4 linked regions of the Homo sapiens genome follow. The protein of the gene in region 2 purifies or fractionates together with the protein of the main gene of each other region. This does not show direct contact. Each region holds a gene or a part of one and is shown on either strand. Other genes may lie near its edges. The genes, in order: AKAP11, DNA2, BORA and TARS3.

Evidence for each region.
Region 1: the proteins of DNA2 (region 2) and AKAP11 purify together in Homo sapiens (affinity purification with mass spectrometry; 2 studies listed by BioGRID and IntAct, with this or other methods). This does not show direct contact.
Region 3: the proteins of DNA2 (region 2) and BORA purify together in Homo sapiens (affinity purification with mass spectrometry; 2 studies listed by BioGRID and IntAct, with this or other methods). This does not show direct contact.
Region 4: the proteins of DNA2 (region 2) and TARS3 purify together in Homo sapiens (affinity purification with mass spectrometry; 2 studies listed by BioGRID and IntAct, with this or other methods). This does not show direct contact.

Annotation. Positions count from the first base shown.
Region 1 is NC_000013.11:42,266,909-42,275,900, reverse strand, and holds the start of AKAP11 (A-kinase anchor protein 11), read right to left. Parts: upstream 3,750-8,992; 5' UTR 3,673-3,749; exon of another isoform or gene 3,140-3,672; intron 1-3,139. UniProt on the Homo sapiens protein: Binds to type II regulatory subunits of protein kinase A and anchors/targets them.
Region 2 is NC_000010.11:68,426,974-68,433,973, forward strand, and holds part of DNA2 (DNA replication ATP-dependent helicase/nuclease DNA2), read right to left. Parts: intron 5,538-7,000; coding exon 5,421-5,537; intron 5,343-5,420; coding exon 5,233-5,342; intron 4,999-5,232; coding exon 4,889-4,998; exon of another isoform or gene 4,884-4,888; intron 3,688-4,883; coding exon 3,463-3,687; intron 1-3,462. UniProt on the Homo sapiens protein: Key enzyme involved in DNA replication and DNA repair in nucleus and mitochondrion.
Region 3 is NC_000013.11:72,750,816-72,757,433, reverse strand, and holds the end of BORA (protein aurora borealis), read right to left. Parts: intron 5,266-6,618; exon of another isoform or gene 3,745-5,265; coding exon 3,613-3,744; exon of another isoform or gene 2,284-3,612; coding exon 2,218-2,283; 3' UTR 1,238-2,217; downstream 1-1,237. UniProt on the Homo sapiens protein: Required for the activation of AURKA at the onset of mitosis.
Region 4 is NC_000015.10:101,699,499-101,708,342, forward strand, and holds part of TARS3 (threonine--tRNA ligase 2, cytoplasmic), read right to left. Parts: intron 6,250-8,844; coding exon 6,185-6,249; intron 4,440-6,184; coding exon 4,361-4,439; intron 2,888-4,360; coding exon 2,741-2,887; intron 1,687-2,740; coding exon 1,588-1,686; intron 1-1,587. UniProt on the Homo sapiens protein: Catalyzes the attachment of threonine to tRNA(Thr) in a two-step reaction: threonine is first activated by ATP to form Thr-AMP and then transferred to the acceptor end of tRNA(Thr).

The sequences.
Region 1 (8,992 bases), on a different chromosome or scaffold from region 2:
CCAGAAGCCTGTATCACAGTACCTGCCACACGGTATGCTCTCAACAAATACTAATACCGTACCCTTGCATTGTGCCTGCCATATGCCAGACACTGTTTAATTGCTTTACATACATGAATTCATAATTCTCACCACAGAAGGTGCTATTATGCCCATTCTACGCATAGGAAAACTGAGTCATCAAGCATTTCAGTAATTTGCCTGAACTCCCACACCCAGGAGAATCTGTCCTGTAAAGAGACTACTGGTTAGATCTGGTTAGAACATTACCAAGCTGAGAGCAAGTTCAATGCAATGCCAGAGGAAGAACTCAAATTGCAGGATGTTAAAGCACACCTGAGGTATCCATCACTTCCTCCCTGTCCACTCTCCTTTTGTTAAATATGTTGGCATGGCCAGTTTAAAAGGAGCAGCCCTGCAAACTGTGAGACAAATCTAAGTCTCTTCCTCATCCATTTTTCCCATTCCTATCTTTCCTCACTCTCCAGCCAACTGTGCTAGAAGCAGAAACCTGACCAATTGGATTCTCTCTCTAGAAACATAACTGAGACTTGGAGATGTTTGCTGAGAACCATGTTGCATAGTCAGTGAGTCTGATGTTGGCATCATGGCAAACCAAAGTCTCATGCAAATCAAAGTTTTGGGGAAGTGGAAACCAAGAGCTTTAAAGAGAAGGCCAATCTGAAAGAAACTGGAACAGACCTGCGTGAGTAGCAGAGACATAAGACCATGTGCTTCCAGAGAAAAACTGGAAGAGTAACTGCCTGAAGACTTTCTGGTTCCCAAAACGCTGAATTGGAATCATGCAATGGACTTCAGCAGCACTGTATGACAAATGCTTTTTTTTTAAGTAGGCTAATTAAATTGGCTTTTTCTTCCTTGCAATCAAAGAATCCTCAAACCATTACGGGAGGTAAAAATAAAAACACTGAGTAAGCAGCTACTATGTGCTTCGCACTAACTTTTTGAGGTGGGTATGAAGAAAATGAGGCTCATTTAATTAATAGACCTGACTCCCAAACCGAAACTCTTTACAATATACCTCATTTTCAGTCAAGTAACATCCTCTCTGTTCCAGGCCTCTACCCCATTTATTTCCCAAGAAACATTCTCAGATTATTCTAAAAATGATAACTTTTCTCCTTTTACCATGTCCAGTCTCTAATCTACAAATTTCAAATGCCTTTACTCCAGAAGTTTTTTGTTGTTGTTTTTTGAGGCAGAGTCTCACTCAGTCGCCCAGGGTGGAGTGCAGTGGCACGATCTCGGCTCACTGCAATCTCCCATCTCTCAGGCTCAAGCGATTCTTGTGCCTCAGCCTCTCGACTAGATGGGATTACAGGCATGTGCCATAACACGTGGCTAATTTTTTATTTTTTAGTAAAGACAGGGTTTTTCCATGTTGGCCAGGCTGGTCTTGAACTCCTGGTCTCAAGTGATCCACCCGCCTCAGCCTCCTAAAGTCCTGGGATTACAAGTGTAAGGCACCAAGCCTGGCCCAGAAGTATTTTTTTAATAAACTTTTATATGTAAGGATGACTGGGAGAATCGAGACACTTGGATCTTTCCAGGCTGTTTTTAAACTGATAAAGCATTTTTCTTTCTCTTCCCCATATTACCAGCTCATTGACCCTTAACTCATGCCCAGGCTTAACTTAAAGCTTTTCTCGACCTGTCCTCACCCTTCAATCCTTCCAGGTAGTTGATTAATAAAATGCAGACCACAAGACAGGAAAAAAAACAAAATCAGTTACCCTATCCAAAGTTACTTCAATTACTTTTGAAAAACCAAACACCACACGCCCTACAAGTTTGAAACCCTTGCCAAAAGGTTATGAAGACCAGCCAAAAAATTTATTTTTCTACTTCTGAAAATTAGTTTGCTAAGATGGAGTAAGAAGGAATTTTTTCTAATCAACACTGGTCTCCTCTGCCCATTCACAAAGAGATATTTTCTAAGTCTTTCACATTTTTGTCACGTATAGACAGAATTCCTCTACCTATTTACAACTGGCATTTTCTCTTAAAACGGCCTTTAATATATTGTCCAAATTGGTTTGAGTTCCTTTTCCAGACAGTAAGTTCCTAAAATTAAAAAATAAAAAAATTAAAAGTACCGTATTTTTTCCAGCCTCTAAAGGCAAAAGAGGACTTCTTCAGCTTCTAGACTTATCCCTGGAGTTCAGGGGGCTAGAGAAGGCTAGAGAATTTCTCACTATGGTTCCATGTCTTAGGCAACTTCCCATATCCTCAACAACTGCAAAATATCACTGGCCTAGGAGTCCACTGCTAGGCCCTTATCAATATTGTCGATACTGCAGTTATGTGGGTACATACATTAGTCTCTAGCTCAGCTTGGGAACCCACTTCTTCCCTGATTTCCTTACATTCTTTGACCTTTCATAAATTACTGTTACAGCTACAATAGTGACATTCACTGTCCACCCCTGGGTCAGTTTTGTCAGGAGGAACAACGACAAGAAAAAATGAATAATCAGGGTACCGTTTGAAAAAGTAAATGTGTTTTTCAAAAAAAAAAAAAATCATTCAATTGCACTATTTTAACTGACACCAATCATGCCAGGCACTGGGCTGCCATCCTAAAATGATGACATTAAAAAAAATATATCTGTGCATTACTGATACCCCATTTTTTCTTAGTACTCCATATTTTGAGTATTTTCAGACATAACAAAATAACAATCGACATGACATTTCTAAAACAGTGGGAAGCAGCTAAGCAAAACGAGCATTTTGCAAGCGATTGAAAAGCTGAAAAGAGAACAGGAATTAACTCCAGTTTGTACTAAAGCTATTAGGTATGTATCTCAGCAGTCTTTCTCACCATGAAACTCCTTAACATCTAAAGCTAAACCACATCCAACTTTATATGGTTTTAGAAGACAGACAAAGCAGAGAAAAAAAATGAAAGCTGGTAATATGGGGAAGAGAAAAAATGTTAGCTTTTACTGTCATTGTCACTTTTTAATACTTCGGTTACATCTACATATTTTTTATAAAGCAGCTTAGATGCCTGGATTAACAGCAGTATACTCAATCCATTCGGGGTACTTTATGGCCAGCCTTAAGCCATTAACAGCCTAGGAGAGTATTTGACAGCAAATCCAAATATCAATACTCTGAGGAGCCCCTTGACGCCTTCCGTTTACAAGATCTGAGCAGCGCCTGCTTCCAAGGCTCCGGGGGTCTGACAGTGAAGGATGCTGTTCGGGAACAAAGTGCAACGTCCTCCCAACCGCTGCAAATGTTCCTGTGCGCACACCACGAACACACACTAAGCACGCGCACCACGCACCCGGGGGGCCGTCTCTGAAGACCACCCCGGGGATGGAAACAGCCTGTCATTAAAAGGGGCGGCAGCTCCACCGCCACACTTGGGACCCCAGGAAGACGCGTCTCGAGACCCAGCACCTCCCTCTACTCTGGGCCCGGTGCGGTGAGTTTCCTCCTTCGGCCGCGCTCCTCCCGCCCTCCTCCCTCCGCCATGCGAAGGCGCAGCTCTCGGGCGGCCCCGAAGCCAGAAGGGGGACCAGCGGCAGGCGGAGGGGCTGGAGCGCCGGAGCCGGGCCGCTCCATCCATGCCGGCCGCACACCCGCCGCCACCCCATCTAAACGCAGCCTCCGCGGCGAGCACGTCGGCGCCCGGCTCACCTGGGGGCCGCAGCCTCCGCAGCTCACAGACATGTCACCGGCCTCAACGACCCGTGAGCGAGCCGGGCAAGCAAGCTGGCCCCCTCCCGCGCTGACCCCCAGCCCTCCCCCTCCCAGCCCCGCGGCCCGCCCCCGCCCTGCCCACCCCTCGGCTTCCGCCGCCGCCGCCGCCGCCGCAGCTCCGGCCCGCAACACCGCCTACTCTCCACGCCTCCCACTCTCTCTCGCGAGAGGGCAGCGCGCCTCTCGCGAGAAAAATTCCGCGGCCGAGCCCGCGCAAAAGTGGGTGGGCGTTTAAAAAGGGAAAGAAGGAACAGGAAAAAAAGCCTTCCCACGTGCTCCAGTGCAGCCCGCGGAGCAGCCCGCGGGGCAGCCCCGCTGGTCACATGACTTAAAGGGGGCCTCTCCATTGGCCGGGACCCACTCAGCCTTGGGAGCTTTAAATTCGAGGGCGACCTACGAACCTGCGGCGGACGTCTTGCGCGCTTCCTGGTCCGTTGCCTTGGAAACGGCTTAACCCTTCCCTCTGGCAAGTCCCCAGGCCTTGGCTTGCTCCGCAGATTTGGTTTCAGGCTCTGCCTCTTTTCCCTCGACCCCTTAGTCTTAACAGCCTGGGGCCAGCTGGGCTCCTTCTTCGCCACAAGGCTAGTTTTGCTTTCTTCCGAAGCCCGGGGCCCTTCCCAAAGTGGCAGCCCCACCAGATCCGAAGGCCCAAGGAAGGCTCATCCTTTCTGATGGCTCCGCCCCTTCTCCCAGCATCTCCGGGGAGGACCACTCACAGCGCACCGGGCAACCAGCCCTATCCCAGCCAAGAAGTAGCTTCCAGGGTTCTCAGGGCCCTAGTGCTCACCCTGATGTCTTTACGTGGTATGGAAATCGGAAAGTAAAGCTTTGGTCACTGGGAAGCCTAGCCAGAGATGAAAAGCTGTTATGGTGATTATTTTCACCTAAAATCGGAAGGGCCAGTCCAGTCAAATTGCCCTGTCTCCTAAAGGGCATCTGTTCCTCAAGAGTGGAAACACCTGGCAATAAGAAAGACATTTTTGAGTGTATCCTCGTTATGAGTTAAGTTTTGCCCTGTTCAGAGGAGAGGGTCACGGAAGAAAGGGTGCATTCGTTTGTTCATTTCTTCATTCAACAAACACTACTCTAGGCTGTTGATTGAACAATGATGAAGACAAGTAGTGTAGATTCTAGGGAACTTATCTGAGGGTGAAAAGAAAAAAAATCTGTTGGTTTTAAGCTGTATGCAAAGAAGTTACAATAAGTGACGTGATGGTGATGGTGACTGAGTGGCTAGTAAAGGGGATGCCCTTTTAAGGAGGAGATATTTTAGCAGCGATTTGAATAACAGACGCAAAAATCAGAGCATAGAGCATTCCAGGAAAAGGATAACACTAATTCAAAGGCCCTAAGTAAGGATCTATTCTAGTGCATTTGAGGGAAGAAGAAATGAGAAAGTAAACTTTCTTGAGCCTGGAGATGGAAACTGTAAGAGTTAAAGAAAGAAACACAAAAAGCAGCTTAACAGAGACAGGTTTATTTTGGAGAATAAACCTGAGAGGGGCTTCTGGCCGATTTCGGTCAGGAGTGTTCTCTCTTACAGACTAAAGGTATTTAGTGGTTTAGGGAGGGAGAGCATATTGTAGACTTGGAATGTTTCTGGGTGGAGGAGAGTTTTATTGTCAGGGGTGTAATGTCTCTGGTTGGAGGGGAGGCATATTTCTGATCAGAGTGGGGTTTATCTCAGGGTTGGAAAGTTTCTGGTCAGAAGTGTTATTTGTGGTTTATGGTCATGCTGACATTAGCCATTAGGCTGATGTTTCTGGGGCTGGATTTAGGCGGTTTTTAATCAAGGGGAACTTAAAATGGCGGTGCTTGTCCAAGATGGTGATGCTCTTGCTCTGTCAGAAACTAGCATGGGCCAGATCCTGTAAGGCTTTGTTAGCCAAGAAAGGAATTGAAAGTTTATTCTAAACGCAATATAAGGTATTACAGAGTTTTTAATAGGGGAGAGACACCCAGAGTTTACTTTTTTTTAAAAAAAAAAAGTCTCGTCTTTGAAAAGAATGGGTCTTAAAGAGGCCAAAGCAGAAGTAAGGGAGATTAGGAGATTTATAGGCCAGGTGAGAGACAGTCATGAAATTTAATTTAATTTCCTATGATCTCAACATTTCTAAAATCCATTAGGTCAGAGTCCTCATGCTGTTTCTGCCTTTGTTGAAACATGTGGATTTCTCCTAATTACTAGGAAAAATAAAATGGAGGATTTTCTTTTGTTACCTGGGGGAAAACAAATGGCTGAAAAGGAAGGGCCCATCTTTAATTTTTTTCCCTCCATTATGCTACACTGACAACCACCTCTTCTGTCTATTCTTAAAGTCAATTCTGGGAACAGAAAATGAAATTCTACGCAGATACTTATTCTTTAGTGTAAGATTTGAAAAGATAGAGGTTGAAAGCTCAGAAATCAAGAGGATGTTTCACCAAAAGAAACGAATCAGGAGATGAGTTCCAACTCGAAGCTCTGTCATTAGTGATACAACCAAATCAAGGTTCCTTATCACCACTGAGTCTCAGCTTCCTCATACATAAAACAAAGCAATGTAACTAGCCTACACCTAAAGTAGTTAAGCCTGAATTACACTTTAACATGCACATACCAGTAGGACGGAAGCTGGAAAGGGAAATGAAATGATTTTTTATGAAAACCTAACAGAGTCAGCGGCTCAACCCAAATGAAATTAGACACACACACACCAGCTGAATAACTCTGAAAACGGTTGATACAGATACCAGGAATGCTTCCCTAAGAAACCTTGGCCTTCTCAGAGTGTGAAAACGGAAACACCGCCACCTGCTCAACCTCGAATTCCATCTCTCTTAAGCTATTTTGAACCTGTGTAGTATTAAATAATGATTCATGTGTTCCTAATCAGAGTTTAAGAACTAGATAGCAAATACATTTTTTAAAAGGTCTGAGGCAATATCCTAAAGTTAAGCTAACACCTTAATTTTAACGAAAGCAAGATTTCAAGATACATAGGGCTACTTTTTAAAAGGAAAAACGCCAAAAAGAGAAAAAGTACTATTTTAACAAAGTAGGACCATTCTTTTAAAATGTTAATTGAGTATTTTTTGAGTGTTTACAGCCCTCATAATGATTAACTGAAACAGCTGCTTGGTACTACTAATTTAGATGAACTCTGGGCCCAACTCTCCCAATCGAACATGTATTAACAGAGCCCGAAATAAATCCTCCCAACTCACCTTAGCAAGACAGTCATTGTGCTCTCTTGTGCTAGCTACAATTATTTGCAGTACATTAATACAAAGTGAGAAAAAATTAGGATTGAGATCCAGTTCTGCTGTGTCCCCAGTTCCTGGATTCTTTTTAAAACTGTGTTTTTTAACAGTTTTACTGAGATGTAATCCATTTACCATACAATTCAGTGCTTCTGGTAGATTTACAGTTGTGCAACTGTCATCAAAATCTAATTTTAGAAGTTTTGTTCCTCCCTAAAAGAAACTCACATACTCAGTAGCAGCCAATCAACTTTATGTCTATAAAGACTTGCCTATTCTGAAGGTGGAAACCATCATTCTAAGCAAACTATCACAAGGACAGAAAACCAAACACCGCATGTTCTCACTCATAGATGGGAGTTGAACAATGAGAACACATGGACACAGGACACAAGGCGGGGAACATCGCACACCGGGGCCTGTAGGGGGTTGGGGGGCTGGGGGAGGGATAGCATTAGGAGAAATACCTAATGTAAATGACAAGTTGATGGGTGCAGCAAACCAACATGGCACATGTATACCTCTGTAACATGTTGTGCACATGTACCTTAGAACTTAAAGTATAATAAAAATAAAATAAAAAATAAAAAAGACTTGCCTATTCTGGACAGTTCATATAAATGGAGTCATACAATACATGGTCTCTTGGGTCTCACTTCGTTCATTTAGCATGTGTTAAAGGATCATCCATGTTGAAGCGTGTATCAGTACTTCATTTATTTTTTATTGCCGAATAACAGTTCCATTCTATGTATATAGCACAGTTTTATTGGCCAACTTATCAGTTGACAGACAATTCAGTTGTTTCTACTTTTTGGCTATTATGAATAATACTGCTTTGAATATTCCTATACAAATTTTGTGTGGATGTTGCTGATTCTTTTTAATACTCTAAAAAATAGAAGACGTTCTATTTATCCCATTTACAGAGTTCATATTTCTCCTCCTAGCACCGTTCCTTTGCTTCCAGGATTTGTCTTTTTTGCCTGCTGGTTGAAGTATGTGCACTCTATCTCCAGAGGGCTGCCATTTCTACTGCATCTGACCATGCCATTCCCCTGCTTACAATCCTTCAGTGGCTTCTCATGGTTTTCCTCATAATCTGCTTTTCTCCTTTGCTTTCATATCATTCTCCCTTTCAGACTGTCCCCTTTTCAGTTCCTCAAAATAGGACCAGACCCTGCCTGCCTCATCACCTTCCACAGGCTGTTTCTTCAGGATCCAATATTCTTTCTCTGTCCATCCCTGTTAACAGCTGAATGCCCAAGAATCCTTCACCTTTCAACTCTACTGTCACTTCCTCAGGAACTTTCGTCCTAACTCCCCAGACTAAGTAAATCCCCTTTACTTAGGACTCCCTACTTTTTCTTCAACGCATTTATCAACTTATAACAATTTTTATTTGTGTGGTTACCTAGTTAATGTCTGTCTCCCTCCTCCACTGAACTGTGAGATCCATGAGCAAGGGCTGTTTCTGTTTTTGCTTAGGAGTTCCTAAGGCACATAGTAGGTACTCAATAACTATTCAAAAAAAGAGAAGCGGGGAAGGAGGGTGTCTTACCAGACTATTCTTTATTCTCTTTAATTTGTATTGTCAGGAGTCCTCAGTAAAGTCCTGATAAATGCTATAAGCCAAATCTGTGCTATGTTAAGGGAAATGAATGTCAAGGCATGTCCCATGCTTGGGATGTTGCAGCAGGGAGAAAACAGGTGTCCCCTGCTCATACTCCTCACAGAAACGGGGTAGGGAGAGGAGAGACCAGTGGTGTACAAAGGAGCCAGGGCAGCAGGGTGGCAAGTCAGGGAACACAGCCTGTGTCCAAGGGCACCCAAGAGGGTGCCTGGGAACCCCTGTGTGTCTCCTAGGGACATTTTAGTGGGCCAATTTCCAGCAATCAAATTGGTGGTGTCTCCTCCACTGTAATTTTCTAAGTTAATGGAAATATTTCTTTCATTTTTAGACATACTGTAATAGAAACAAGACATTTGGGTTATAGGCACATGAAAGAATTAT
Region 2 (7,000 bases):
TATACATTTTAAAAATTCTCAAAACTCAACACTACAAAGCATATAATCCAAAATGGGCAAAAACATGAAGAAGAGATACAGATGACAAATAAGCACATGAAAAACTCATTATGGGCCAGGTGTGGTGGCTCAAGCCTGTAATCCCAGCACTTTGGGAGGCTGAGGCAGGTGGATCACCTGAGGTCAAGAGTTCGAGACTAGCCTGGACAACATGGTGAAACCCCGTCTCTACTAAAAAAAAAAAATATGTGGCGCATGCCTGTAATCCCAGCTACTTGGGAGGCTGAGGCAGGAGAATCACTTGAACCTGGGAGGCAGAGGTTGCAGTAAGCCGAGTTCACACCACTGCACTCCAGCCTGGGCAATAACGTGTCAAAAACAAAAAAAAAACCCCACCACATTATGGCTGGATGCAGTGGCTCACATCTGTAATCCCAACACTTTGGGAGGCAGACAGAGGTGGGAGGATCATTTGAACCCAAGAGTTCAAGACCAGCCTGGACAACATAAAAAAATTGAAAATATTAGGCAGGCATGGTGGTACATGCCTGTATAGTTCTAGTTACTCAGGAGGCTGAGGCAGAAAGATCACTTGAGCCCAGAAGGTCAGGGCTGCAGTGAGGCGTGGTCTCACCAGTGCACTCCAGCCTGGGCAACAGAGCAAGACCTTGTCTCAAACACACACACACACACACACACACACACACATTTTAACTGGGTAAATGCAAATTAAAATCTCCAAACACCTACCAAAATGGCTAAAATTAAAAATAGTATCAGCTGGGCACGGTGGCTCATGCCTCTAATCCCAGCACTTTGGGAGGCCAAGGCGGGTGGATCACGAGGTCGGGAGCTCAAGACCAGCCTGGCCAACATGGTGAAACCTCGTCACTACTAAAAATATAAAAAATTAGCCAGGCGTGGTGGCGCATGCCTGTAATCCTAGCTACTCAGGAGGCTGAGGCAGGAGAATTGCTTGAACCTGGGAGGCAAAGGTTGCAGTGAGCTCAGATCGCACCACTGCACTCCAGCCTGGGCGCCAGAGCCAAACTCCATCTCAGAAAAAAAAAAAAGCCCGGCACAGTGGCTCACGCCTGTAATCCCAACACTTTAGGAGGCCGAGACAGGCAGATCACAAGGTCAGGAGATTGAGACCATCCTGGCTAACATGATGAAACCCCATCTCTAGTAAAAATACAAAGAATTAGCTGGGCGTGGTGGCAGGCGCCTGTAGTCCCAGCTACTCGGGAGGCTGAGGCAGGAGAATGGCATGAGCTGGAAGGCGGAGCTTGCAGTGAGCCAAGATTGCACCACTGCACTCCAGCCTGGGGGACAAAGCGAGACTCCGTCTCAAAATAAAAAAAAATTGTATCGCCACCAAATGCTGAGGAGATCACTCATACACGTGAAATGTTCCTGCTTAGAAAAACAGTTTGGCAGATTAAAAAAAAAAAATGAACATGCAACTACCAATCAATCCAGAAATTGTACTACTGGGAATTTATCCCAGGGAAATGAAGACTTATGTTACGCAAAAACCTGTAACATGATTGTTTACAGCAGCTTTATTCACAATATCCAAAAACTGGAAACAATCCAGATTTTCAGAGGGTGAATGGTTAAACACAATGCAGTACATCCATGCTATGGAAAAATACTTGGCAACAAAAAGGAACAAACTATTAATACGTACAACTATCTGGGGGAAGCTCTGGAGAATCAGGCTAAGTAAAAAACACCAATCCCAAAAGGCTATTGCATTTACTTAACATTCTCGAACGACCAAATTATCGAAATGGAGATCAGAGTCTCAGAGTCATGGCTGTCAGAGGTTAAGGAGGGGTAAGGCAGGAGAGTGGATACAACTATAAAAGTGCAACATGAGGAATCTTGTGGTAATAGAATAGGGACTGTATCAATGTCAACATCCTGGGTGTGACATTGTACTACAGACTTGCAAGATGTCACCACTGGATAAAGGGGACACAGGCTCTCTCTAGTATTTCTTACAACTGCATGTGACTCTACAATTACCTCAAAGTAAAATGTTTAATTTAATAAAAATGTTAACCAGATATACATCTTAGCCAGTTCTAAATTTATCAATAACAGGGACAGATATTAGACAAAAATATGCTAGCATTAGACAAAGGAGGTAAAGGAACACTCTATTAAATCTAATCTTTGGGAAATTTTTTAAAGACAAAAATATCAGTTAAGCCAGGCACTATAGCCGCGCCCATAATCCCAGCTACTTGGTGGAAGGTTCAATTAAAAAAAAAAAAAAAAAGCCGGGCGCAGTAGTTCACGCCTATAATCCTGGCACTTTGGGAGGCCGAGGCAGGAGGATAACCTGAGGTTGGGAGTGCGAGACCAGCCTGACCAACACGGAGAAACCCTGTCTCTACTAAAAATACGAAATTAGCAGGACGTGGTCAGGCATGCCTGTAATCCCAGCTACTTAGGAGGCTGAAGCAGGAGAATCGCTTGAATCCGGGAGGCAGAGGCTGCTGTGAGCTGAGATGGCGCCATTGCACTCCAGCCTGGGCAACAAGAATAAAACTCCGTCTCAAAAAAAAAAAAAAAAAATTAGTCAGGCGTGGTGGCGGGTGCCTGTAGTCCCAGCTACTCGGAAGGCTGAGGCAGGAAAATGGTGTGAACCCAGGAGGCGAAGCTTGCAGTGAGCCAGGATCGCGCCACTGCACTCCAGCCTGGGTGACAGAGCAAGACTCCATCTCAAAAAAAAAAAAAAAAAAAAGAAAAAAAAATCTGTTAAGAACTCCCAGTATAAATAAACATTAAATAACAAAATAAAATAAAAATTAGATTCTATATAAAAGCCTAGAGATAGTTATCACAAGACTATTAAGTACCATTGTTTCTAATTCAAACTTACTAAAAAACCCGGATTTTTTTTTTTTTTTTTTGAGCTGGAGTCTTGCATTGTCACCTAGGCTGGAGTGCAGTGGCGCGATCTCTGCTCACTGCAACCTCCGCCTCCCAGGTTCAAACGATTCTCCGTGCCTCAGCCTCCCAAGTAGCTGGAATTACAGGCGCCCACCACCACGCCCGGCTAATTTTTTTTGTATTTTTAGTAGAGACAGGTTTTCACCATGTTGGCCAGGCTGGTCTTGAACTCTTGACCTCATGATCCACCCACCTCAGCCTCCCAAAGTGCTGGGATTACAAGCGTAAGCCATCGCACCTGGCTGAAACCCTGATTATTAGTAGTTTCCTAGGATATTTGAAACTAGAAGAGAGCCCTAAATAATAAACCCAAAACCTTATTTCAGATCAGAAGGAAATAGCAAACTATAAGTTAATAAACTGGTCGTATAGTACATATAAATTAATCATGTGCAAATCCAGTCAATGTGACTAAATTTCCCAGAGTACAGTTTCTCCCCTCATTCTGGCTGTGGACATTAACTGTTAGTATTATTATACAATAATTGTGCTTACTTGACTATTGTAGAGTTCTTCTAGAAGAGCTAAGGATTTAATGGACTTTGATCTGCAAATTTCTTGCTCTGTAAATTGCTGGATAGCTGGATGAACCTTCTGAATCTGACCCAAACGCAAAAATCCTATTTTAAACTTGGCTAACTTCAAAAGAATATTGTCAACAGCAGAGTGTGTATAGCTGGTCAACAAAACGCTAAAACCACAGGCGTAGAGAATTCTTACCTAATAATGGGTAAGAGAAAAAAGAAAAAACAGCCTTACTTTTAATTCCAGATAATTTTTAACATGTTTATAAACTTAACAAGAACCATATCTAAGAGCTGAGCCAAGTAAAAATTATGAAGCCAAAACATTTTACAAAAATTACATGACATTATTATACGTTATTAATAATATGTCAATAATACATCATAGGCCAGGCATGGTGGCTCACACTTGTAATCCCAGCACTTTGGGAGGCTGAGGCAAGTGGATCACTTGAACCCAGAAATTCAAGACTTGCCTGGGCAACAAAGTGAGATGCCATCTCTTTTTAAAAAATTCTTTTTTTAATTAGCCAAATGAGGTGGTGCGCCCCTGTGGTCCCAGCTACTTGGGAGGCTTAGGAACGAGGACTGTTTCAGCCCAGGAGATTGAGACTGCATGAACTGTGATCATGCCACTGCATTCCAACCTGGTCTCAAATACCAATCCCCCTGACTTGGACTCCCAAAGTGCTAGGATTACAGGCATGATCCACCTCGCCTGGCTCACGTTAACAAGACTCCATCTCAAAAAAAAAAAAGAAAAAGAAAAGAAAAAAAGAAATTTACTGACATGAAAAAAAAAATCCAAGAAAAATCTCTAACATCTTTTTTTTTTAGGATGGAGTTTTGCTCTTGTTGTCCAGATTGGAATGCAATGGCGTGATCTCAGCTCACTACAACCTCTGCCTCCTGGGTTCAAGTGATTCTCCTGCCTCAGCCTCCCGAGTAAAGCTAGGATTATAGGCGCATGCCACTACGCCCGGCTAATTTTTGTATTTTTAGTAGAGAGGGGGTTTCACCATGTTGGCCAGGCTGGTCTTGAACTCCTGACCTCAAGTGATCCGCCCGCCTTGGCCTCCTAAAGTGCTGGGATTACAGGCGTAAGCCACAACGCCCGGCCTCTAACATCATCTTTAAAGGGAAAGGAAAACATATAGTGATAAATATCACATACCACTAACGGAAAGCGATCTTAGAAAATTCTAAATGCGAGAAATCTACATGATTACAACTGTTTGTGCTTCAGCTTTACTATTTCTCATCATTCTAAAAAGTTCATTTGAAACAAAGACACTGAATTAAAATTCAGCCCTTTTGATATTCAATATTACATCCTCTGAACTGAGGAGAAGCTGATACAAATATTTTGTCTCTAAGCAGAAGAATAATAACCTTACGAGAGTACATATCGTAGTTGTTTTTCCTGTCCCAGGCATACCCACGATGAGTGTGTAGTCTTTTGAAAGAAGTACCTTTTTCATCGCTTGCCTCTGAGGCTTATTCAAACCTACATTTAAATTCAAAAATAACAGGAAAAAGAGTGTTGAATTTCAAAGGAAAAGTTAATTATTTCATAAGAAAAGCAGTCTCTATCCAAGTCTATTCTTCAATACAAAACCATTTCCAAAGAGTCTTGGTCTAAACATTGTAGTTGCAAGTCTAATCAAGATATTAGACTACAGTATAAATCAAATAGAAACAAGAAAAATTAATCAAAGCAGACATGGTGATTTTAGCATACCCTTTAGAATGCAGGCAACTGTATCCTTTGCATCATGTGGAAGAACAGAACTAAGGTAGGATATAAACTGAGGTTCACGAAAGTCAATAATTAAATCTCGAAGTTTTTTGCTGAAAAGTGAAAAAGCACTTTTAGTAATATTCCTTAGAAAAGTGGAGTGAAATTCAAATTTGCTCATTGTTACAAACCTGACAAACGTGTTTTCCATCAATTTGGAAAGATTTCCTAATGGGGTATCTATATCACAATTTTTTTCTTCTTGGTCTAATCTGAACAAAGTTGATTCTGGAAGGACCGACAAGTTTCTAAAACAACAAAACAAATATACATGAATGCTCGCCATTTCGCATAGTCTGTATAAGAAATATGCTGCTATCTGCTAAAAGAATGAATGGGCCAGAATAGCTATTAAAATAGCTACCAGCCCTCAGTCACACTTGCCAATCAAGGACAGCATGAGGCCCTGGATTGGTGGGAAAAGGCAGAGGGAAGGGGAAGGTCCAAGGCACCAAGGTCAAAGCAATTAATAATTGGGAACCTGCAACATTTGCTGAAAATTCATTTACCCTTGCAGTCGAACACGGGTTCACCATCCCCAGAGGGATCCTGAATGCATGGCTCTTCCTTCCTCTAACCTGGAGTGCAGGCTTCTTTTCTGCCACCTTCTCCCTGTCTTCTATCTGTCCCTTAAGCTCTGGTATTCCCTAGAGTCCCTTCCCTGGTTCATTGTACTACTCTTTCTCATTGTTTGCTCCAGGGTCCCAGGCCCTCACGTGCCTCCAAATTCCAAATTCCATCTTTAGGCCTGACCTCACACTCCTCTCCTACCTGGTTCCTCACCCAAGCTTTGGGTTTGGATATTTAGTAGGCAGTGAGATCTCTCCACTTAGCTAAACCCAGGCTGTGAAAGCACAGTACTTTCAAAGCAGAACTCCTCCTCATCCCTGCTGAACCTGATGCTCCTTCTCTGGTCCTGATCACAGTTAATGGCATTGGCATTTGCATTTGCACTGCCATCTTGATCCTTCCCTCTCCCTCATCCTCTCCCCAACCCACACACCCAATCAGTATCCAAATGCCAGCCACTTTTACTTTCTAAATACTTCTCAAAGTCATTCCATTCTCTCTGCCAACACTACCCTGCCTCAATTTCCTCTAGCCTGGGTCACTGCAACAGCTTCCAGGTTTGCTTTTAGTTTTTCTTCCATTAATGAACTCAATTCTCTACAATGTAGCCAGAGGAAAATGCAAATCCAATGATTACCCACTCTTCTGTTTAAAACCTTTCAATACAATTCTATTTATTCAATAGAATAAATAAAATCTAAACTTTTTTTCTTTTGAGAGAGGGCCTTGTTCTGTTGCCTAGGCTAGAGTGCAGTGGCATGATCATGGCTCACTGTAGCCTTGAACTCCTGAGCTCAAGCTGTTATCTCACCGCAGCCCCCTGAGTAGGTGGGACTACACGTGTACACCACCACACCTGGCTAATTTTTTAATTTTTTGGAGAGATGGGGGTCTCACTATGTGGCCCAGGATGGAAAACTTTTTAAAATGATACGTAAGACATTCTATGACCTGATCTAATTACTCTCTTCCTTATATTTTATATTCTAGAAATAACGTAATTACCTGCATTATCCTGAATGCTCCATGTCACACTACATCACACGTTTGTGCAACAGGTTTGCCCAGTATAGTATTCTCTTCTCACACTGTTTCACCAGACTAATTTATTAATCCACAGGATGAAGATTCAGAATTAGCT
Region 3 (6,618 bases), on a different chromosome or scaffold from region 2:
AAAAAAAAAAGAAAAGAAAATTAGCCAGGTGTGGTGGCAAGTGCCTTTAATCCCACCTCAGGAGGCTGAGGCAGGAGAATCGCTTGAACCTGGGAGGCAGAGGTTGCAGTGAGCCAAGATCGCGCCACTGCACTCCAGCCTGGGTGACAGAACAAGACTGTCTCAAAAAAAAAAAAAGAGAAGAAAAACTGCCTACAGGCCATAGTTAACCTGCAATAGAGAAGAAAGGGAAGTAGGGCAGTGCATGACTGGCCTTAGGTTTTTTCTTTCCAAGTTTATTTTCTTGTGCTTCAGCTACTAGAAAGGTTTAATTCAGGGATAAGTCCCAATTGAGTAGTTCAAGATGATCAGAGACTTTGCTATTTTCCCCTAAGTTCTATTCCATAATCTAAAATGTTCTGTTTCTAGTGCCAGTTCTTATGCTAAGCAGGTTACGTGGAATATATCACTTAACTCAAAAAGCCCTGTTAAGCCAGGACTGTTATCTCCATTTAACAGATGAGAAAATGGAGGTTTATGGTCTGTTCTCACACTGCTACGAAGAAATACCCCAAACTGGGTAATTATTATAAAGGAAAGAGGTTTAATGGACTCAGTTCCGCATTGCTGGTGAGGCCTCAGGACACTTACACAATCATGGCAGAAAAAGGAGAAGCAGGCACCTTTTTCACAGGGCGGCAGGATGAAAATGACTGCCAGCAGTGGAAATGCCAGACGCTTATAAAACCTTCAGATCTCATGAGACCGGCTCACTATCACAGGAACAGCATGGAGGAAACCGCCCCCATGATCCAGTTACCTCCACCTGGTCCCACCCTTGACACGTGGGGATTGCTACAATTCAAGGTTAGATTTGGGTGAGGACACAGAGCCATACCATATCAGCCCAGATCAAGTAGTGACAGAGTAGGGATTTGAATACAGGTTATAGTCACTATTGTGTTATTTCTTGACTTTTGTACTATTAAAAAACTGTAGCCAGTGAGGCTTCTACCCTTAGTACCCAGAACTCCTTTTAGGTATAGCAATTGTTTTTAGGTAAATTTATATTGAGTTTAACACCTGTGTGATTAAAGACAACTTTCCAATGTAGTATCTGTAGCCATGTCCCCTAATGGCTATTAGTGTTCATGGTTAGTGTGTTGAAGATGAGCCAGGTACATAACGCGGCACATTTTCTGCAGGTCAGCAGTAAGGTTTCAAGGTACAGTTATGGAGGAAAGAAGAAAATGACACATTGATAACACAGGTCTTTATTCCCTTTTGAATGAGACAGTTTTTAAAAGTTGATTTATAAATACAAAAATACATTCTCCAAAGATAGTATTTCCAAACTGTTATATACCCATCTACTCCCAACATGGATATAAGTTTTTTAAAAAAATAGTTGTATATAACATACATATCTGCCCCAGTGTTACTTCACAGGCCTATGCCCTACGGGAACTCCACTCTCCCAGCCCCACTTTTTCTCTTGGTTCTCCCACATTCTTATTCTCCCACATCCCTACCCACGTTTGAGCTGGAAAGGATGTCCCTACCCTAGGCATGAGGTATATTTTATTCTGGGCACCACACATTTGCCCCATAGATAACAATACACGTGATGATGTCACTAGTACTACCTTTCTAGTATTTACATACTTAAAAGTAGTAACTAGAACAGTTATCACTGGAACTAAGAATTTTCCCCACAGAGGTGAACAGACCAAGAACTAAAATTTCAGGAAACCTGTTTAATTTCTTTTGTATCTTTGAAAAGTTAGTTTTATATCTAAGATTTCTTCACATAGGTTATAATTCATCTGTATGTTCAAGCTTTTATGTAAAAATATATAGTGCCTTCAGTTTTAACATAGTTTCACATGTTCTCAGAACTGCTAAATTCAGTGCTACCAGTAAGGCTTAATAAGTAGTTCATTGACCCTGTAAGATAGGAGCACTCAGCTCTGTCACAATTTGTTGTTAAACACATCACTCAATGTAAGTATAAAAATATTTATTGATAAAAAATAAACTTATAATTCAGCAACTTGAAGTTCCAGGAGCATTTCTGTTGTTCCTATGTCAGTAAGCCCTTGATTTTTCACATTAAGGAGGGAAAGCTAAGCATGTTACTTGAAGTAATTTTTTCCCAGTCACCATCATGTTGATCCTGTGCACAACGATATATGCGAGGAACTCTTAAGCTTAGTCTTTGATTCTGACAGAGGCATTCTATGGACTGCTGCATTGAAAAGGGCTTGCTGTTTTCATCCAACACCTCTGTGTTGTGTGGTCTTGCTGTGAAAAAGAAGACAATACCTTGTTTTCAGTTTAAGTAGGACCACTGGAGGATGCAATTATCGGGACTGTTTTTAAAACCTAAAAGCACGTTTCTTTAGCTGAACTCTGAAGGGACAGTAAAGATACAGTATTTTATAAATCAATATTCTGCATCAAAAAGCATCCCAACACTTTGAGAGGCCAAGGTGGGAGGATCGCACGAGCCCAGGAGTTTGGGACTAGCCCTGGCAACATAGTGAGACCCTGTCTCTACCAAAAATTTTAAAAAGCTGGGTGTGGTGGCACATGCCTGTAGCCCTAGCTACTCAGGAGGCTGAGGTGGTAAGACTGCTTGAGTCTGGGAGGTGAAGGCTACAGTGAGCTGTGGTCGTGCCACTACACTCTAGCCTGGGTGACAGAATGAGACCTTGTCTCAAAAAAAATAAAATAATAAAATTTAAAAAAATCCTTCATTTATCTCTACTTATGTTTAGATAGACAACTGCATCCTGAAATAGGATGGATTTTGTTCAGGTTAATATTAGAAGAGACCTGCTCTGATACTACATACAACAGAAAGGCAGTTTGCTCCTACTACATACAACAGAAAGGAAAACTAAGGTGGCCTCCCTATTAAACATTTGTTGCACATTTGCTGATATTTATAGTATTTTATAAGAAACTGGCATATAACAGCAGGGCAAGGTGGTTCACACCTGTAGTTCTAGCTACTCAGGAGGGTGAGGCAGGAGGATTGCTTGAGCCCAGCAGTTAAAGGCTGTAGTGATCTGATTCTACGACTGCACTCCAGCCCGGGTGACAGAGTAAGACCCTGTCTCAAAAAAAAAAAAAAAGAAAAAAAAGAAACGGCATACAAGGCTGGGCATGTTGGCTCATGCCTGTAATCGCGCAGCACTTTGCGAGGCTGAGGCAGAAAGACTGCTTGACACCAGGAGTTTGAGACCAGCCTGGGCAACACAGCAGGCCCTGTCTCTACAAAAAAATAAAATGCAAAAAAAATTGGCACATAAAATTAAAGACTGTCCTGACTAGTGCCTGAAATTATGATGAGTTTCTTCAAGTATGAATATATAACCACCACCTGGAAGGTTCAGTAAATGCCCTCATCAAATACACGCTACCTTTGCACACTTTGTAGTATGTAAGATACTTGTGTATTCAGAGTAACCAAAATATTTAAAGGTTATTGGATGTTAAGAAAACAGGCTTACCTTTTAGTGTTTTAAATTTCATATAGTTTCTCAATAGTACTATTGTCTAATAATCAAAATTATTTTATATTTCTAATCTAAACAATATTAAGCTTTCACTATATTTTCTCCGTACCTTCATATTAAATGCTTGAGATTTACTCTCAACTTCACATGTTTGTGCATCACTTTCTTTGCAGTAACTTTCTGCCCCAACTGTATCCATAATATTGCTTCCACAATTCTGCGTATTATAGCCACTATCCATCTGACAGGAGAAAAAAGAAAAAAATATATTGTGAGGAACTTAAAAGTCAAATATTTAAATAAGTAAACCACTATAAACTCTCATTCACTACATCTGAATGATCCTAACATGTAATATTGATCATGTTGAACAAAATTCAAAAGTAATGCACAAATATAAAAGGTAGTCCTGCATAGTACTGATTATTGTAGTCATTTTACAATTCCTTCCAATGAAATATATCTTGTAACTTCCTTAAGAATCAGTGAACAGCCTACTGACACAATGCTTTCCTGTTATTTTGTGATCGTACCTAGTAGACAAAAATGAGTATTACAACTAACTTCACCTTCCAACGCATTTTCCAGGCTTGTCTCTAAATGGCTTGAGGCATGCTGCCTTTAAAAAAGTGGATTATATTATATTTACACCTAGTTGTTCACAATAATGCCACATATATAATGGCTCTAGATGTTAGTTCAGCTTTTCATGTTAATAAAAATTGTAGCATCCTAAGATACACTGTTTCAGTGCAAAAGAGCAAAAAAGAAAGATTCTAGCGAACTTCCAGCTTGGAAACATTTATTGAGTGTCTAAAAAGGCCAGGCACTATCTCTATATATTTAATATTTTTTTCTCCTTTCAACAACCCTAATACTTTACTAGAGAAGGAAATTAAGGCTTAAAAAGCTTAACTTTCACAATGTCATCCAGTGATGAGGTGATGAAGATGTGAGACCTAAGTCCAGGTTCTGTTCACTGCACAACGCTCCATTTACCTGTATAATGCTGAGCACCAAAGAAAGCAATCCACAAGGGAATCATTTTGCATTTAAGCCCTCCCTGCAAGTTAGGATCAGAGGGAAGGAAAAAGCTGACTGTCATTTTGTTTCCCTCACAAAGGTACAGACTAGCCTAGAAACGGCACTCTTTATCACTTAATAATCCTGAAAAAATGTTCCCAGATTTCAAGGCTGGATACATATCTGCTTACTACTAGAGGTCATGTTCCAATTAGAACAAAAGCCTTGTGATGTGTAACATTTTTGGGGAAAAGCCTTGTTCTGCTATCATTCAATAGCTACTTGATCAAAAATATAAATGTCAGATTGCTCCCAGAGATTCTGCCAATAGCTCTTCCTTCTAATATTCATCACTGCCAAATAGCTGGCTTATAATGCAATACTAATATGTAACTGGATATATATGGAGGGAAGAGTTACTCATTAGTACAGCAGGAAGTAAGGCATGCGGGGAGTTTGTCCCACACTATGGGAAGAGCAGGATTGATGAGAGCCAAGTTGAGATGGTGGCTGACTTCACTGTCTCTCATCTAGACTTCTGCTAATGTCAATGCCTAATATGTACCAACCAGGCAACAGATACCTTGTTATCCCCCACAGGCATCAAGGCAGGCATCAATCTCACTTTATAGCTAAGAAGGATGAGGGGACAAAAATTAAAAAGTCATGTTCTATTCACTGCTATGTAAATCTTGCCTTAAGATCCCACAGCCTGGAAATAAAAGAACTCTAATTCAAACTTGGTTCTAATTGCAAACTTTATATTCCAGTTGGGTCATGGTGCCTTTAAATGGTGTCTCTATGTCAGTCATTTAACATGCACTTTGTTACTAAATTTATTTTTCTACCACATAAATCAGATGTCATTGTCTTTTAAAACTTTCAATTGGCAACAGTTGTGCCCTGTGATAACATTCCTTGACATCTGGGCCCAGCACTTTAGCCCTTCCCTCATCATTCTCAGTCCCCCTTGTTTGTTACCATTCAAAGGACCTTGCCTTCCATTACTACTTATGTTTTTGCTTTTATTATTATTTTAAACTGACACACAATTACACATATTTATGATGTACATGATATTTTGATATGTTTACAATATGTAATGATCAAATTGGGGTAATTAGCATATCCATTAACTCAAACATTTATCATTGCGTTGGGAACTTTCAAAATCTGCTCTTCAAGCTATTTGAAAATATACGATAAATTGTTAATTACACTCACCGTATAGAGCTATAGAACACTAGAATTACTCCTATCGAGCTGTACTTTTGTATCCATTAACCAACCTCTCCCTATCCCTGCTCCCCCTACCCTTCCCATCCTCTACTACCTACCACTATTCTATACTCTTCTATGAAATCAACCTTTTTAGCTTCCACATGAGGGAGTACATGTGGTATTTATCTTTCTGTGCCTGGCTTATTTCACTTAATGTCCTCCAGTTCATCCATGTTGCTGCAAATGTAAGGACTTCATTATTTTTTATGGCTGAATAGTATTCCATTGTGTATATATACCACATTTTCTTTATCCATTCATCTATTAGTGGACACTTAGGGTGATTCCATATTCTGGCTATTATGAATAGTGCAGCAATAAACACTGGAGTACAGGTATCTCTTTGACATACTGATTTCCTTTCCTTTGGATATATACCTACTAGTGGGATTGCTGGATCACATGGTAGTTCTATTTTTAGTTTTTTGAGGAACTTCCATAATAGCTGTACTAATTCATATTCCCACCAACAGTGTTCAGGCACTGTTTACTTATATTAATCACAATGATCATGCTAATATCCTGTAATCCTATTATTATCCCCATTTAAAGAAGAGGAAACAAGCTGAAAGAAACTGTCACTTTCTGGGATTTATAAAGCTAACAGAGCTGGGCTATAAACTGAAATCTGCCATTACGGTTTCCCAAGCCCATGTTCTTTAATGCCATGCTCGCGCCTCAACTAAATACATTTGCACCCACACCCATCCTGGCACCCTGCCCTCCTTTAAACATGGAGGAGTTACTGCGGCTACTCCTATCAGGGTTCTAGATTCTACCCCCTCTTGCATGCCTCAGTTCCCTCATTTAT
Region 4 (8,844 bases), on a different chromosome or scaffold from region 2:
TGTACTCCCAACTTGAGAGTACAAGGTGCCAGGGGCCATGCTGATTTTCCAGAGAAGACAGCACATCCAAATCAGCAGCTGTGATGGTCATCACCACCTGCCTAAATGTAAATCTCTGATAATCTTCAGTGATTCTTCAAGTCTCTTCCACTGCCCTCTGATCTCCTACCATTGCCTCGCATTGGCCAGTCCCTACTGGAAGATGTGTACCCCAGGTGATAGAATACAGACATGTCAGCCTCCAGGGGCACAGCACAAGAAGAAAAAGACGGAGAACAAGACTGGAGAAGCAAACAGAGAATAACCAGTGCAGGCCACATGCCATGGATTGTCTTCTCAGAAAGTTACTGAAGAAAGTGATCCCCAAATGAGAATTAAAGATAAGCAACGAAGAGATATACAGGGACCAGGAAAAGAGACTCAGCATAGGAAGAGACATGAGGGGAGTGGCCAAGATGATGATGAAAAGAAGTCCTAAGCCATCAGTTTGCAAGAATCTTAGTAGCAAGTTAATTCTGGAGTAGGACCAAATTTGAAAAAAAAAATTACTGAGCAATTACCTGAATCATTGCAGAATATGTTGCAAGGAGATTTGTAGTTTTTGAGAGAAATTGGAGCATGAATTAGTGGTAGGCACATAAAAAAACTAAGTAAATGAAAAATTTAGGTAATGATTATAGGAAAGACAAAACAGTGCAAGCATGGAAATGTAATCCCAGTAGTCCACCCGGATCACCTGTGAACACTATCTACACAGTCCTTATCATGTAAATACTAAAGACTTTCCCACCTATGAACTTGTAATACAAGTAGGTATTTTGCACTGTTGGTTTTTTCCTCTTTCCTCTGGAACTGCCAAATCACCTGGGAGTCATGCTATAGGCAAAGGGAAGCATCAGTGGCCCATGGAGCACATTTGGAGAAGCAATGCTTCATGGCTTAACACTCTGTACCAGAGACGACACTTTCTCCTTTCTTCTTTTTCACAGGGAGTGCCACACTTAGTCTAATGCTTACCTTTATATTCTACATGGTTTAGAAACTTATATGGACAAAAAGTGAATTTTATGAAATCCAGGAATGTATTCAGGGGAAACAGAAATTATCTCCATGTTATTATTAGAAGGTACAATCTAGTACCTCACTTTTTTTTTTTTTTTCTTTGAGATGGAGTCTTGCTCTGTCACCAGGCTGGAGCGCAGTGGCACAATCCTGGCTCACTGCAAACTCTGCCTCCCGGGTTCAAGCAATTCTCCTGCCAGCCTCCCAAGTAGCTGGGATTACAGGTGTGCACCACCACACTCGGCTAATTTTTGTATTTTTAGTAGAGACAGGGTTTCACCATGTTGGCCAGGCTGGTCTCGAACTCCTGACCTCAGGTGATCTGCCCACCTTGGCCTCCCAAAGTGCTGGGATTATAGGTGTGAGCCACCGTGTCTGGCCAGTATCTCACTTTTAACCTCAAAATTCTTATTAATGTTACCAAAGTAAAGTTAATGGAAACGCTTGACCACTTTATTATGAGAGAAAATAGTAAAAATGTAAACTGGAATTGAATAAGAATAAAACATTTTAAAGTTAACTTACTCGTATGAAATCTGTAAGCGTATTATAAATGAAGGCTCCTCTGGGAAGGAAAAAACAGCTTCCAGGACTCAAATCGTGGAAAAAGAAAAGTTCTTGTTCCTAGATTGAAACAAAAATTGCATTTCAAATGTCATCTGCTATTGCTTAATATTTACTGCACACACATATAATACTCAGTTATTTCCATCTTCTCTAGTAATAGACATTCCAAGGCCATTCAACACTTATACCTAAATGCATGCAACAGCATATGTAAAATTTCCAATCATATTTATGCCTAATTAGCTTTGAACTTAGCTTTTACTTCACCTTCTGCTATTCTCTGCGAATTTTCTTACTTGGCACACTTGGAGTACGGCACTCATGGGGAGACAACACGGTAGAAAGACCAAAAAAGTTCATTGCAGGAGGTGGGCTTTAGGTGATGATGATCATCATGGCTGCTGCCTACTGAGAGCCTATCCTGTACCAGGCACCGTCACCCAGTTTCTGTCTTCACAGCCACCCTGCAAGGCTACCCAGCAAGGAAGACAAGGACACGGAGCTTGCCCATCATCTAACACAACTAGTGAGTACAAGGACTGGGCATAAAGCTCAGGCCGAGCTGCTTTCCAGTCTGAGCTTTTCCTTCTACACGCTGCTCTGTCTCCCAGATACAAAGGATGCTATAAAGTGCACAGAATGTAAAAAACAACTCTTTTTTTTTTTGAGACTGAGTCTCACTCTGTCGCCCAGGCTGGAGTGCAGTGGAGCGATCTCAGCTCACTGCAACCTCCGCCTGCCGGGCCCAAGTGATTCTCCTGCCTCAGCTTCCAGAGTAGCTGGGACTACAAGCGCGTGCTGCCACGCCTGGCTAATTTTTTTGTATTTCTAGTAGAGGTGGGGTTTCACCAAAAACAACTTTATTTTTTATCATGACAAAAATAAGAGAAGGGTACAATTTTCAAAAATTAATAAAAGATACAGGAAGGAAAGAGGTTAGAAGACATCTGGGGTATTAAAATGAAAGCACTGAGCAGCGGACTGTGAGTGCCAGCAAAATAGGAGAGAAGAAGAAGAAATCTTATTTTTAAAGCAACTTAGTTTTGTGAGACAGAAACATTCCTATGTTGGCTTATGATTACATCTCCAGTGATTAAGATGTGGGGCATACCTTCCCGATCTTCCTGTGATCTCGGTTCTTTGCTTCCTCTTGGAACTTTTCCCAGTCTCTCATCATCTTGTTATCAGGAAAGGATATTCCATAGATCCTCTGCAATGTTTCCATTTCCGGATTGCCCTCCCAATATGTTGAGGAATTCTAAATATCAAAGAGGATTTTGGTAAATATATCATACATTCAGTTGTAAGTAAAACTGCTCTTAAATACAAATGCAATTTTCCACTATCATATCAACAAAGCAGCCCTGCATGGTGGCTCATGCCTATAATCCCAGCACTTTGGGAGGCCAAGGTGGTTAGATCATTTGAGCTCAGGAGTTTGAGACTCGCCTGGACAACGTGGCAAAACCCCATCTGTACAGAAAATACAAAAACTAGCCAGGCACGATGGCACATGCCTGTAATCCCAGCTACTTGGGAGACTGGGGCAGGAGGACTGTTTGAGCCCAGGAGGTCGAGGCTGCAGTGAGCAGTGTTTGTGCCACTGCACTCCAACCTGGGTGACAATGCAAGACCTTGTCTCAAAATCAAACAAACAAACAAACAAAATCAACAAAGCTTAAAGAAGACTATTTGTAGTGCTGGGAACAATCTTAAAATGGATTCTAACTAAACCTTCCCAGCCTAAATTATACCATTAACCAGCAAATTATGTAGAGTCTGCTATGGATTCTAGGAATGACAGTGAGAGCACACAGAAAGGAGGGAAGGCTAAGCAGCAATCATAATCACCAAGGATGGGGCAGAACAGACAGTAGGTATGGGGAAGTAAAGGTCGGTCTTGCTGACCTACAGTCAATGATTAAGAACAGTGCCATTAGCCAGCCCCATTTTACCTGTAAGAAAATCAAAGCCAAGAAAGGCTGGGACTGCCAAGTCAGTCCCATGCCTCCTAATCCCAGAGCGATGTTTTCTCCATTACAACATCATATCCCCTCCTGCTGTTTTCTTTATGCCGCAATACATTACTTTCACATGCAGACAAATATTCTTGCTTACATCAGGGCTATTCAAGAAAACCATAGTATATAGAACAATATTTTAAAATAGTGTATGAAAAAGGCCAGGCGCAGTGGCTCATGCCTATAATCCCAGCACTTCGGGAGGCTGAGGCAGGCGGATCACCTGAGGTTAGGAGTTCGAGACCAGCCTGACCAATGTGGTAAAACCCCATCTCGACTAAAAATAGAAAAATTAGCCGGGTGGGGTGGTGCAGGCCTGTAATCACAGCTCCTCAGGAGGCTGGGGCAGGAGAATCGCTTGAACCCAGGAGGCGGAGATTGCAGTGAGCCAAGATCACACCACTGCACTCCAGCCTGGACAACAGAGCAAGACTCTGTCTCAGAAAAATAAAAAATAAAATAAAATATCGTATGAAAAAGAAATGTTATAACACTTACAATAAGGTAAAATGATAAACAAAAGCCACCTATAGTGTTCTAATTATCAAAATTCTAAATGATTTTATTAGTTTTCATCAAATAAGAATGAAATATTTTAAAATATCATGATGTTCAGACTACAAAAGATATGATTGAATAAGATATGATTAAAATCCTTTAATAGCTAGTGCACCTTAAGTTTACTGTATTAAAAAAAAATCAATCCTTACCTTAAAAATTTTGATGGTTTTAATTTTTCCAGTGTGTCTTACATGTGGACCTTTGCAAAGGTCAATTAATGGACCGCACCTATAATGAAATATTTAGGACATGCTCAGGCACAGTTACAGTGTTCTGGACTATTCATTATAAGCCATAATATCCTATGTTTTAGGTAGAGCTTCACTTATTTATATGTAGCAATGCCATTTTTAATTTAGGGTGAAGGAGAGAGGTGATTCATCTAGCCTCAGAGTCCACTCTGCCCTCTAGATTCAAAAACCACAGAACATCTTCTGAAAGAAACTAGGCAATTCTCTGATTAAAAACTTAAAAATTACAATGAATACAAAAAGGGACTGGCTTACAGAGTGGCAAACACGAAAATGTCATCTCTCTCAATGGTCAGTCTTTGTGTATTGTTCTCTAGGGAGAGAGCTTGTAAACAACACTCAGATGAAGGGAAGGAATGCCAAATTAGCATGAAAGGCTTCAATACTCTAATCTTTACATAGAAAGTCACAGGGCCGGGTGTGGTGGCTCACACCTGTAATCCCAGCACTTTGGGAGGCCGAGGCGGGTGGATCACGAGGTCAGGCATTCGAGACCAGCCTCGCCAACATAGTGAAACCCTGTCTCTAATAAAAAATATAAAAAATTAGCTGGGCGTGGTGGTGGGCGCCTGTAATCCCAGCTACTTGGGAGGCTGAGGCAGGAGAATCACTTGAACCTGGGAGGCAGAGGTTGCGGTGAACCGAGGTCGCGCCATCGCACTCCAGCCCGGGCAACAGTGCAAGACTCCATCTCAAAAAATTAAAAAAAAAAAAAAAAAGAAAGCCATAAAAGAAAAGCTTTATTTTTTTTTCAAAAATTAAATACAAGCCATTCAAATTGAAAAACTACAAAAAGTGTCAATGTTGACGTAAGTAAGGTTCTCAAACCCAAGAGCTCAAGCATTAGAAGCCAGAAATTTAAAACTTGGCCTGTTTTCTACATTTTCATTTATTTTTAAGCTTTAAGAAATGCACCGTGCATAGCTTTGCACAAAGGGGATATGATTTTACTTACAGTACAATTAAACCAGAGAACCATAAGTCCTTGACTGTCGAAAGTAAGTACCATGAGGGAGAATATCTGTGGTTATAATTAAATAAATACCAGGTCTTCTAAGGCGGTACTGTGATAGTCCTAGCAGCACCCAGATGGCCGGAACACACGGAAAGGGGAACAGCAATGACATATAAGGCGTATACACACGAATAAAGAAAAAGGTGCTCAGGAACCTGAGGTTAAATGAACAGAGCTAAGTGATTCTGGTATTAACTTCACTTGTCTCCTCTTACATTTGATCCTGCCTTTGTTTCCCAGTATTTTCTTTTGGTCTCATCATGAGTATCCTGCTAATGCATGAAGACTGTACACTTGGACTCTGGACAATGGGGCAGACTCTTCTACACTTGCACTCTGGACAGTAAGTATGAGGCAGAGAATCACTGCCGAGGAGATGGCTTGTAATGGCCCCCACTGCCACATTAATAAGAACGTGGAAGGACAGAATAGAAACTCCTTTCCCAACAGTATCACTCACATGGAGAAAAATCCTGTTATAGCTAACACCCAGGAAACAAAATATGGGTCTCAGTACTGTCCTGATTACTAAAAAGGGGAAAATAATCATTTCTCTTTAGTGAAAACATTTTGAAGATTGTAACTACGGTAGATTATCAACTACACAACTTGAAAAATCGATCTCCAACCAGAAAACAAACTCGGCCTCTACTGCTAACACCTTCAAGTTTACCACTGAGCAGCGTTTACCATGTGTGGACACAAACCTGTACACGGTGGTAGTTGCAGTGTTAACTTTCTCATTCAGAATGCGGCATTTAAATTTATTGTACTACGAAGAAAAACATATTTACACATTATTACACACAATGTTGAAATGAAGAAAACAACTCTACTTTTCTTCAAGAAACATTGAAAGGTCATCTACTGATGTTCTAGGTGCTGAGACACGAGGGATACAAAGAGCTCACAGCCTTGAGCGACACCGTGCAGCATGGAGGCCACAAGCCACGTGGCTACTGGGCATTTCAAATGCCATTAATTTGTGGTTGTTGTTGTTGTTTTTGAGACAGAGTCTCACTCCCTCACCCAGGCTAGGGTGCAGTGCCACCATCTTGGCTCACTGCAACGTCCGTCTCCCTGGTTCAAGCGATTCTGCCTCAGCCTCCCGTGTAGCTGGAATTACAGGCATGTACCACCATGCCTGTATTGTATTTTTGTATTTTTACTATGTGCTAATTTTTGTATTTTTAGTAGAGACAGGGTTTCACTATGTTGGCCAGGCTGGTCTCAAACTCCTGACCTCTAGTGATCCGCCTGCCTTGGCCTCCCAAAGTACTGGGATTACAGGTGTGAGCCACCACACCTGGCCTCAAATGCCACTAATTTGAAAGAAGATGTGCAGTGAGTATAAAACACACTGGACTTTGGAAGTATAATGTTGCAAAAAGAAGAAGAAAATCATTCGTTAATCATTCTTTATACTGGCTACCATTGAAATTATACTTTTTATATATTGGGTTAAAAATTTGTTAAAATTAATTGCAACTTTTACTTTTAAAATGTAGCTGCCATAAAATTATAGGTTACACATGTAGCTCAGACTAGTGGATTCCATTATGTTTCTATTGGACAGTACTGTTCTAGAAGATCTAATTTTAACATTAATCAATAAAATTCTGACAAGGACACAGCTATATTATTAATTTGTATAAAAACAAAAGCAAAGTTTATCGTAATGATGATATATTTATAAAACTAAGGGTTTTTTTCCTTTTCCTTTCTTTTCTGCTTCCATCACTACTATCGGGGTATACAAGGCACTTTATATTAAATAACTACTTAAAGAAGCTAGTTGTTGGGAGAAAAACCCGTATCTGCATGATTTAACTGTTTCGTATCTATATATTCACAACAAATCATTTTCCTTAACAAAGATTAATTGTGTTTAGTTCTTAAAAGTAGCTGCAAAAAAGGCAACCCACAGAATTAAATATTTGCAAATCACATATCTGTTAAGAAATGGATATCCAGAATATATCAAGAACTCTTATAACTCAAATACAAAAAAACCTAATTAAAAAATGGGCAAAAGAGCTCAACAGACATTTCTCCAAAGACATTTCTTCAAGAAAATACACAAATGGCCAATAAGCACATTAAGATGCTCACCATTAGTACGTCATCAGAGAAATGCAAGTCAAAACAAAACCCCAATGAGATACCACTTCACAACCATTAGGATGTCCATGATTAAAAAAAAAACAAAACAAGTGTTGGCAAGGATGTGGAAAAACTGAACCCCCTGTGCATCACTGGTGGGACTGTAAAATGGTGTAGCCACTGCACCAAACGGTATGGCGAGTTCTCGAAAACTTAAAAACAGAATTGCCATAGGATCCAGAAATTCCCCTTCTAAGTATATTCCCAAAAGAAGTAAAGCAGAGACTCAAACAGAACTTTACACACCCATGTTCACAGCAGCGCTGTTCACAATAGTAGCCAAAAGGCAGAAGCAACCCAAGTGTTTACAGGTGGATGAATGGATCAACAAAATGTGGTCTATCCGTACAATGGAATATTATCCAACCTTATAAAGGAAGGACATTCTGACACACATTAAAATATTAAAATATGGATGAATCTTGAGGACTTTTTGCTGAGTGAAACAAGCCAGTCACAAAAGGATAAATATTGTCATGATTCCACTGATATGAAGTGCCTGGAGGAACCAAATTCAGAGACGGAGAGTAGAATGGTGGTGGCCAGGGGCTGGGGGCAGGGCGGGAATGGGGAGCTAATGTTTAATGGGTATAGAGTTTCTGACTGGCAAGATAAAAAGCTTTGGAGATTGGTGATGGTTTGACAACATTGTCAATGTACTTAATGCCACAGAACTGTATACTTAGGATTAAATGGTAAATTTTATATGTTATATATTTTACTGCACAAAAAAGAATACTGCAATTTTTTACCAAAACCAACTCTATTTTTTTATTCAAGCCCACAAAACTGATAATACTGTGTTTTCAAAGTACATGTTTTTGGTTGGGCGTGGTGGCTCACGCCTGTAATCCCAGCACTTTAGGAGGCTGAGGGGGGTAGATCACTTGAGGTCAGGAATTCAAGACCAGCCTGGCCAACATGGCAAAACTTTGTCTCTACTAAAAGGATAGAAAAATTAGTCAGGCACGGTGGCACATGCCTGTAGTCCCAGCTGAGGGACTGAGACACGAGAATTGCTTGAATCCAGGAGGCGGAGGTTGCAGTGAGCCAAGATAGTAGTGAGCCAAGATAGTGCCACTGCACTCTAGCCTGGGAGGCAAAGAGAGACTCTGTCTGAAAAAAAAAAAAAAAAAAAAAAAAAAAACCCAAAAAATAAAAAACAAAATGTATGTTTTCTCCAATATGTATGTTTTAAAACATA